Linked DNA regions of Homo sapiens: region 1 is linked to region 2. Evidence: fine-mapped expression QTL. Tissue or cell type: unexposed skin. Region 2 holds a variant in brackets; the other region holds the start of a gene. All regions are shown on one strand. Distances are from middle to middle.

The links. PIP is the estimated chance that this variant, and not a neighbour inherited with it, causes the effect.
Region 1: it holds the start of GPM6A, and the variant in region 2 is fine-mapped to the expression of GPM6A in unexposed skin (GTEx, PIP above 0.99).

Annotation. Positions count from the first base shown.
Region 1 is chr4:175,809,846-175,815,243 of GRCh38, forward strand. It overlaps GPM6A (glycoprotein M6A), which reads right to left and starts at 2,419. Exons shown (of 7, transcript NM_201591.3): 1 at 2,346-2,419. The coding sequence starts at 2,382. GPM6A-DT (GPM6A divergent transcript) reads left to right here. Exons shown (of 8, transcript NR_125901.1): 8 at 2,015-2,344.
Region 2 is chr4:175,936,263-175,941,660 of GRCh38, forward strand. All of the region lies in intron 3 of LOC107984113 (a long non-coding RNA gene), which reads right to left. It also overlaps a transcript of GPM6A not described here. Among named protein-coding and RNA genes, the nearest start is that of GPM6A, 130 kb to the left of the region's middle. The variant T/C (reference allele first, on the strand shown) is at 2,345.

The DNA.
Region 1 (5,398 bases), 130 kb before region 2:
AATCCACTGAATTTTACCTTCTAGTTGAATTTGCAAGGTCATATGAGTAAACACTGATGTGAATTTTAAGTCTTGGTGACATGTAACAGGAAAGACAAGGTCTAAATTTTAAGAAAAGACTGAAAAGCCACTTACTTCTTGCAAATGGAAGAAAACTCTGTGCTATTTGAATTATTGTTTAAGAAAATCCTATGCAGTTTAAGAAAAACAGGATAAGAACTAACACAAAATGCTGCTTTTCTTTAGACAGATCATTAAGTCTCTCCACCTAAACTCTTGAAAAATCTGTAACGATTTTGTCTGCTTGTCAAATTGCTCCTCCAGTAATTTCACAGTTACAACCCACGCACATATCGACAGAGCATTTCGATTCAAATGTAACTTTCTAACAACAAACTTATATAGAAAAGGTGTCATAGGCGTAATTGAGAGGAACAGAAGATCAAGAGTGAAGAAAATTACATCTTCTTTTCTCAATTAAGAAAAAAACCTAAATCATAAATATTGTATTCATATACATTTACAAACTGATAGACCACTAAACGTTTTTTCTGATTTAAAACTGCTTTCCACCACTGCTGCTGGTGCATATATTAATGAGGAAAAACCCACTGTGACAGAAATCTTCCCCTCACGGCATAGCCACCTCCACCCCCATAAAAGAAAGCTTTTCAGTGTTACCTGAGAAAAAAACATCACAACTAATTACATCATTTTTCTTGGTTCCCGCATCTACCAAGGCTTGCTCAGACACATTCAACCTGTTACCACAATCCATGATTTAACTCAAGGTTTTATTTAGTGTAATGAATATCATTCCTCTATTTAAAATGCTGTTTATCTTTCCTTAAGCAAATTGATCGGCCAATAAGTATCATTATTAGGTATTACAAAAAAGATGTTGTCATAAGGTAATTTATTCTAAGTTAAAATAGTCCACTGAGATGTCTTGTAAGAACAGAAATTACCATTAAAATGTCCCATTTACAATCACTGATGAAAACTTGGGCTATTTGTGCATATAATAAAGGGAGCTGAGGTTTTTTAATTTAAAAATAGATCACATGCTATTAATGTAGATTTTTGTGTTTCTATTACAGATTATCATGAATAAGGGTACTAAGGACTAAAATTGGGAAATCAACTTATCTATTATCTCTTGCTTATATAAAACCTTCATGTATTTAATATCGATGGTCCTTTATTACGTGTGTGTGTGTGTGTGTATGCACCATATATGCCTCAAAGTATGTGTGTGTACATTAAGAGAAGAAACCCAGCATAGCTAAATGGCTAAAAATATGGTAACTATACTGTGCTTCCACCCTATATATTTTATCACATAAAATACAGTTTTTTACGATAAGTGCCTTTATATACATTTGAAATTAACTTTGACAGCTGAATCTTTTTCAACACTACTCTTGAATATTACCTTTATGTAGTATTACCTGTGTTACTGCTTCAGTACTAAGAAAATGAGACCATTTTCTCTGACATTACATAAGCCCGACAGCAGACGAGAGAAACGCTGCCTATCTGGGGTGAAAGCTAGCTCCCTCTGAAGCTACCATTTGACACGTTAAAACAATTCTCGAGTTGATTGAATCATTCCAAATTACCAATATTTGACCATTTCAACCTTCAAAAATGGAAATTTCACTTTAACTCATACAGCCAGATATACCTAGACAAGCTTTAAAAACACATAAAAAAATTTCCTTTAACATTATTACTCAGAAGTTGATTACAGTCAACTATATAGAAAGGAAAATCTTAACGCTTCCATACACCCTGAAAATTTATGAACTTTTGCTCCATCTGCTTAAACCTATATTGCATCCTCGTTTTTAGTTTTTATTTTTTAAAGATTGTTTTAAAAAGGTGCACCAATCAAAAGATAATTAATGGTCTTGGTCTTTGTTCTATCAGATGTCCATGCAAAGATATGGATAATGGTTCCATCACCAAATTTTTAACTAACTCCAAATATTGTATTTGTGGCTCACACTAGGGATCCCTTGACCCAGCTCGGCAAGTGTGAAATCACGAAATAAATGAAGGTTAACAAAGACTGGTCTAAGGAATAGTTCACTACAATACCGCAATGCTCTTCTCACTAATACTCGACTCTGCATTTCGGTACTTATATCTGAAAGATTTGCAAATAATGACAACATTCGTGCCAGACATTACTGCAAGTGAGGAACAGACTAAAGGAGAGGAAGGAACAAAATGCCTTCCAAGAGAGAAACATTCATTAGCCTTACTGGCAAGTGTCTAAAGCAAACAAGGAAACTGCAAAATAATTACTTAGTTACAAATAAACGCTTTTAGCACAGTACCTTTTTGTGTCTGTCCCTCTTCCATATTCTCTTCCATGGCTACCTTTCTTCAGTAGAATCTGGTACACGGAATTAATCAAAAGCTCAATTAGATGTTGGAAAAACTGGGGGTTTTTTTTTTTTTTTTTTTTTTTTTTTTTTTTTTTTTTTCCTGGGAAGCTCCAACAGCAGTGGCTTGGGCAAGTCCTCAGAGCTTAGCTCAGGCTCCCTCGTTCCTCTTGTTTGCTTGGAGACAGGCTGTCAAGTGTAATTTCATTCAAATTACTCTTCCGTGAAGATTATCAATTTTTCTTCTCAAAGCTGCCCATTGTGTACCACTGTAAGCAGGTATTCAAACAAATAGCCTGAGAATTTTGGGGGGAAATTTGGTCTGAATCCCAGGAGCAGAGACACTATGATTCACAAGTCTTGCTTTGCATTTAAAATGGGGAAAAGAAATTGAGGTTTGTATTGAAATCTGGGCTTTAAATTGGAAACAGGCTGAGCTGTGAACAGATGGAGGGGTGTCCTCCTAACATGAAGCCGACCACCAACCCGTAATTCCCCCCTTCATTCCAGAGTGGGAAAGCCCAGATTCCCGTCGGTTCTTTATGCTGCAGCAGTGGCTTCTCACCCAGTCAGATACGTTGCAAAAAAACTGTGTTTTCCTTTTCTCTCCTCACTAAGTATTTAGTTAATTTGATTTAAGGTGCCAAGAAAGGATGCAGTTATACCATCTCAGGGTTTATCTGCAAAAGTTTATTACTAAGACAGGACTTGTAATCCCACACCTTTGAGATTTAAAAAGAAATAGAAGCGTGGCTGTCAAAGGAGTGAGTATAAAGCTCTAAGCCTGAGAGATACATGTTTTAAGTAATTATTTTACTTAGTGCCATATGACTCTTAAGTAAAAGGGAGAAAACCACTGGAAGGAAAAACCCTATTGATGTCTTTGTTATTTATTGTTATGATTATAGCCCACGAAAGCTGCTGGTTTCCAATGAGAATCTCTTGAAAGGGAATTTCTTTAAAGGTCAGTGTTAGGGAATGAGAAGAGTGATGTAAGGGAGGAACAAATTTTAGATAAGAAACAAGAGGATAGCAATTTATAATGGGAATCTGCAAGCTGATTTGGAATGCAAATCACAATGCTGCAGTCTGGCGATAATTAGCATTTGTACTTCAGCCTACTGAGTGACAGGGCACAGTCCAAGAGTCTCAATACTTCACAAAAGGTATAGCAAGAAAATAAACAGTATCTCTTTCAAGGAGCATAAACCTTTCCTAGAGTAGAAAGAAAGGATCCTTGCCTCTGTCTTCATCTCCAAATCAGCCAGCACACACACACACAGGGACAGAAACACACACAGAGGGACAGAAAGACACACACAAGCACACACACGGAGAGGCACACACACACACAAGGACACACACACAGACATAACTGTAACTCTCTGCCTTTAATGAAAAATAGCTCACATCCTCATTATCCATAGCATACGTTTCTTGCATTATAGCTTGTATTTCACATGCATTCTTTAAAGCAGGCCAGTAGCATGCTGCACATCACCCTCTAAATATTACAAAAGCAGCTATTTAGAGGAAACACAATTACTGCATTCCACTTTATTTCTCATAAATGAATGTTTAGTCCTCTTACTTGTATAATCATTTGTTATTATTTTCTCTTTTCAAATGAATTTTGTCCAAAAATAACTGGAGTTCAAATAACTCAAAACCTATCTCTTTGGAATATATATCAATGTGTATTCAAGGGTTTTTGAGAGAGCTGCTTGCTCAGTGCACAGATTGAGAGAGAGAAACCATAAGGGAAATCAAAAAGCCAAATTGTAGCAGCCTCTCTGCTTCAACTCATCCCTAGGCTGACATAACCTGGCATATAATCAACACAGAACGGAGCAACGCTCCTCATTTAGATCCTTCATTCGTTTTATACCATGGAAATCATTAGTGAAAGCAATTGTTTATTGTAGTGCCAGTAGATACAATAATGTCACCTTAAATTTTTAGAACACTTTACAATCTATAAAACATGATTACATACATTAACCCGTTGTAAGTCAAATGGGAAAAGCATAATTTTCCCCACTTTATGATGAAAACAAAAAACAAAAAACACGGATGCTCAGGGACACCTAGAGACTGGGCTAATAAATCACCAAGTAAGTCTTAGAACCCATGTCTGTTGATTTCTTGCCTAATGTTCTGATCTTAGAAGCTAATTTTCCTTCCTACTCTGTTCCTTTATGAGTATCTTCAGCATCTTCAGAAATCAGCCTCAGTTCATAGCTTTCTTTTTCACCACACATATAAAGCAAAAGAGGGAAATGAGAGGGAAAGGAAATTTTAAAAATATTCATGATTTCTTTTTCTTCTGGAAATTTTGCAGCAGAATACACTCATATAACCATTCACTTTTTGTCTAAAACAGGCTTTTTCATGTGACAATTGTTACCAACATAAGTCAACATCAACTTGTACCAATTTTTAAAATATACAAAAAAGTCCTCAGAGCCAGTCCAAATGGACTCGTCAAATGAATTAAGAGAGATGCATACACATACATAGCCTCCTCACAGCAATCACCTGTCAGTAGGCTTTCAGTATTTATTGGGGTAAAATATAAAAGAAAAATTTGCCATTTTGATCATTTTTAAATCTGTAGTTCAGTGGCATTAGGTACATTCACATCATTCTGTAACCATGGCCACCAGCTATCTCCAGGACTTTTTCATCTCCACAAACTGAAACTCTGTGCCCATTAAAAACGCACTCCTCCTTTCCCCTTCCTCCTGTTTGATGGCAGTTGAGTTGTTGATGATTTTCTCTTTTTTTTTTGAGATGGAGTCTCGTTCTTTTGCCCAGGCCAGAGTGCAGTGGCATGATCTCAGCTCACTGCAACTTCTGCCTCCAGGGTTTGAGCAATTCTCCTGCCTCAGCCTCCCGAGTAGCTGGGATTTCAGGCATGCACCACCACACCCAGTTAGTTTTTGTATTTTTAGTGGAGACCGGGTTGGTTTCACCATGTTGGCCAGGCTGGTGTCAAATTCCTG
Region 2 (5,398 bases):
GCCACTGCACTCCAGCCTGGGCGACACAGCGAGACTCTGTCTCCAAAAAAAAAAAAAAAAAAAAAAAAAAAAAACTATACATTCCTGTTATATAATAAAATTAAAATAATTTCCAGGCATACCTTTCCTTCATTGCACTTTCCTCAATGTGTAACTACATGCATTAAACTGCATATGTGATGCCAGTCCTTTAGCCCACTAGAACATAGTTACCCAGAGAGCAGTTGGGATTGCTCTACATTGCATCTGACACAAATCCTAGCAGCCTGCAGGCATTCAATAGGTATTTTATGAATTCATAAATAAATAACTAAATGTTAAAGCACACTTAAGAGATTTAGCAACATTTATAAAAGAATATTTCAGAATGTCAAGATATGTAAGTATAACCTAACAAGATATCAAACCAGAAGCAATACTTTTTAAAAATTGAAGAAAAAAAACCCATAAAAACGTAAAGCATCTGTAGAGTAAAAATACCATAAAGCTAAAAGATAAGCACAAGACTCAGAGAAACTACGTGGTAAATTGTAGTGGGGGGTTCATATCCATAATATATTTAGAACTCTTAAAAATAAATAATAAAAAGGCAAGTAAGTAAATAATAAAATAAGGAAACAATATAAACAAAGAAGTCACAAAAAATAAAAATGTCCAGTAATATGTGAAAATTTTTCCTTCATCTTGACTATTGTGGAGTTTAGAGAGATGGAAGATCACATCAAAATTAAAACAAATGTAAATTATATCTTTTCCTCAGATACCTATAAATAAGATTGATGTTTTCCAGCACTTTCAAGGGTACAGACAACAGAAACCACTATTTCTTTTATTAGAATTAAAAATGGGAGTAGTTTTGGGAGATGGCAATTTATCAAAATATTAAAATTATTAATGTGCTTCTTCTTTGACTTAGAAATTTCACTTTTAGAAGTCTACTTACTCTATGGAAATACTGACATATGTGCATTCAAGGGCAAACTTTTCATTGTAGCATTCTTTGTAAATAGTAAATTAAAAGGAATCAACTCAAATGCCCCTCAATTAAATACACTAGTTTACATACATATTATGTTGTCTATGCAGTCTTTAATGCACTTTAACGCATTTAAGATGCAAATTAGTTCTATCAATATGTACCTCTATGAAAAAACTTACTGAAAATATAAATCTAAAACTAAGTTACAGAACAAGCTGCATAGTGTGACTCAATTCATGTCATAAAAGTATACAAAAGTTTCCGACATGTACAAATGGAGCTGATACTCTGCATGAAACATAGTACTTAAAATGTTTGATTAATGAATGAACAAGTCAATGAATAAATAGAATGAAACCTTAAAGTATCCAGCATGTTGAAAACAGTGATCACCTATGGGTTGGAGAGTACAATGGGAGAGGTGAAATGTTGTAAGGATATGAAGGAGACTATTCTATTTTATATATTTACTTGAATTTTTTAAACAAGTTGCATTCACAATGTTGAATTTAAAATTAATTTAAATTAAAATATAAAAAAGATCTGGCTATTAGAAAAATATTAAAGTAAAAACACAAAGTTGAGAGCAAAATTAAGCTAAATGAATAGTCCATTTTTACAATGAAAACAAAAAGCACCTAAATTACAAGTGCCACTTAGATCAAAAGCTGAAATAAAATAATGTAATTAGGCTAGTGAGGTGACTTTCTACCACCCTATTTAATTCTAAAGTTGATAGTCAGTTATTTATATGGACGTGACCTCAAGTGAATGGATTACATAGAGTTTGAGTGTTAACTTTCTATATCTTAGGCTCACTCTCAATATTTTTTAGATAAATAATTTATTACATTATTAAAATGATTTTGACATTGGTCAATAGGTACAAACATAAAGAAAAGAAATAAGTTCTAATGTTTGATAGCAGAATAGGGTGACTATACATAGCAATAATATTTTGTACATGTCAAAGTAACTAAAAGAGAGGATTTGAAATATTCCCAACACATAGAAATAACAAATACTCCATAATGGTATTGCTGAGTCAAATGGTATTTCTGGTTCTAGATCCTTGAGGAATTGCCACACTGTCTTCCACAATGGTTGAATTAATTACACTCCCACCAACAGTGTAAAAGCGTTCCTGTTTCTCCACAGCCGCGCCAGCATCTGTTGTTTCCTGACTTTTTAATGATCGCCATTCTAACTGGCTTCAGATGGTATCTCATTGTGGTTTTGATTTGCATTTCTCTAATGACCAGTGATGATGAGCTTTTTTTTCTGTTTGTGGGCTGCATAAATGTCTTCTTTTGAGAAGTGTCTGTTCATATCCTTCACCCACTTTTTGGTGGGGTTGTTTTTTTC[T/C]TGTAAATTTGTTTATTTCTTGTACATAATCCTTAATTATGTAAGGATACATAATAACAGATTGTAGATTCTGGGTATTAGACCTCTGTCAGATACTTAAAGTAAAATAAAAATTTTTTTAAAGTAAAACCAAAAAAAAAAAAGAAATGACAAATACTCAAGGTGATAGATATTCCAAGTACCCTGGCTTTACTGGCTTTATCATTACACATTCTATGCATGGAACAAACACATATACCTCATAAATATGTAAAATATTATGTATCAATAAGAAATGGGAAAAAGACTAAAGTCAACTGTGATTTTAGAAACAAATTACATTCTAAGGTTTCACCAAACAGTGTTACAGCTTTTGCCAAAATCCATAATCAATCTTTTCCTTAATTCATTCTGTAATTTAAATGCTATCTAGTAACCAAAAGAATAATGCTAAATATAAATAAACAAAAAAGGGTGAAAACTGGTTTTGAAATATGCCATACCTAAAGATGTGAATCCTGTTTATAATTGCCAATTAAGGGTATCTGCATAGAAGTCTAAATTATATCGATCACCCCTCTGGACTAGAGTTTGAATTCAGAATGAATGCAAGGAAGACCCAGTATTGTTCCAGCAAATACAATAAATACTACTCAGCTGCTGCAGGGCCAAAGAGCCCTGAGGGGGTAAAACAATAGGCAAGCTCGTGTAGCAGTCTTCAAATCTTTGTCTACAGTTTCATTCCTGGAGTATTTAGAACTGTGAATAATTTAGTAATCTGTACACTTCCTGATGTAAAATCTGTTATCTGAATTAAGAGATTTTTGTATCTCTTAAAGCAGTACAGCTACATTTAATAGAATTATGCTTTCCTGGCTGATTTACATTTGCTGCCAGACAAGTTAAAAGTACTAAATAAAAATCCAATAAATACATCTTCCCCAATTAAAGAGAGGCCACTCTTCACCAATTTAAATGGCAATTAAATAGTTCACTAATTTTATAGCTGTTTCAGTTAACAACATAATATAACCATTATATGTGTCCATTAACTGTAATATAAGCCTACCAGATGGAAAAAGTCAGAAGAAAATTCAGCTAGAAGTTAAAATGTATTTTGTAATAAACTACATATGAATGAATGTATATGGTGACCTAGAACTAGGATATGATGACTTTCAACAGAAGCAACAAGAAAAAGTTAAATCCTAATAGCAGGAAATTTTTCAAGTTTTTATTTTGCATTTATCTGCTTCACTCTTAATAAGCAAAAAAAAAAACCTGACATTTGGCAATCATAAGTTTTTCCATAAGCACAAATAGAACCATAGCGCCTGGTTCCAGACTACATATAATATTTCTGAGAAAATGCATACATGCCATGAAGATCTTAACATGCCAGTTAAGGAAGAAACAGAGAAACATAAATAGTGATTAAATAGTGATGCAGTAGTTCATTTATTATTTTATAATACAAATATATTTTGTATCAGGACTGGTTTTACCAATGAAATTAAAAATGCCTGGTAGACTAGCAATAATAAAATAGGTAAGGTGACTTGGAGTCAGGGGAGTCATAAAAGCACCGTACATTGATTCTTTTTGAAAATGTGTGTATCTTCTCATGTTAGCCAACGTAAATATGATTCAGATATGTTTGGGAGCAGCATCACAACAATCTACAATAAAAATTACTTTTAACAGTCTCACAGAAAACTTACCTATAGGTTTGGGAAGTGTTATACTGTAATTTTATGAGAAAAATAATGCATTTTTTAGTTTATTATCAAATATTTTACTTAGGCAGAAAGATAGTAAAATATATTTTATTTAAGAATAGTAATAATAGCACTATCATATTAATCAAAATGCAAAGAAAAGTTTAAAAATTTCTAATACTCTAAAAGTTCTATTGTTGATTAAAAATTTGTTGATATTTCATTTATAACAGCTGCTCTGCTATGAAATTATAGTAAAAGTGAATAGAAATACCTATAACATTTTTTATATCTTCTTTATTTCTTCTCCCACGTCCCCCCGAGATGGAGTGTCACTCTGTCGCCCAGGCTGGAGAGTGCAGTGGTGCGATCTCGGCTCACTGCAACCTCCGCCTCCTAGATTCAAGCGATTCTCCTGCCTCAGCCTCCTGAGTAGATGGGATTACAGGCACATGCCACCACACCCAGCTAATTTTTGTATTCTTAGTAGAGACAGGGTTTGCCCATGTTGGCCAGGCTAGTCTCGAACTCTTGACCTTGTGATCCGCCAGCCTCAGCTTCCCAAAGTGCTGGGATTACAGGCGTGAGCCACTGTGCCCAGGTATATCTTCTTTAACTACGTTGGCACAGTTAAGTTAGAAATACTGAAATAGGAGCTAAAAAGCCAGATTAAACTCTGGCTGGTCTTCCATTTCATGGCAGGATGTTGGGAGAAATTACTAGTGTCCCTGGCGTACAGGAGCTTAACAAACATTAAGAAATACTGTTTTTTACTAAGTGATATAAAAGATTCTTCAGACTTTCAACACAGGGAATTTTAATGTTTATTTTATCCATAGTTTGGAAAATGTGAGTGCTCAAATACTGGTTTCTGGCTCAACTGCTTAGTCACAGAAATCTAACAATTTCGGTTTCTAAATAATGAACATCATTTTAATAATGTTTTTGGAGAGAAAAAATTGTTAAATGCATATTAATTAATATGTTAGGGATAATACTAGAGACGTCTCATTTGTAATAAGCCTTCATCTTTTAAAAAAAATTTATTAGTTATTTTAACATCAATCCACTTTAGAAGCTTATTTTCTTTTTTAAAAAAATTATACTTTAAGTTCTGTGATACATGTGTAGAACATGCAGGTTTGTCACATAGGTATACACATGCCATGGTGGTTTGCTGCACCCATCAACCTGTCATCTACATTAGGTATTTCTCCAAATGCTATCCCTCCCCTAACCCCACCACCTCCCGCAACAGGCCCTGGTGTGTGATGTTCCCCTCTCTGTGTCCATGTGTTCTCATTGTTCAATTCCCCCTTATGAGTGAGAACATGCAGTGTTTGGTTTTCTGTTCCTG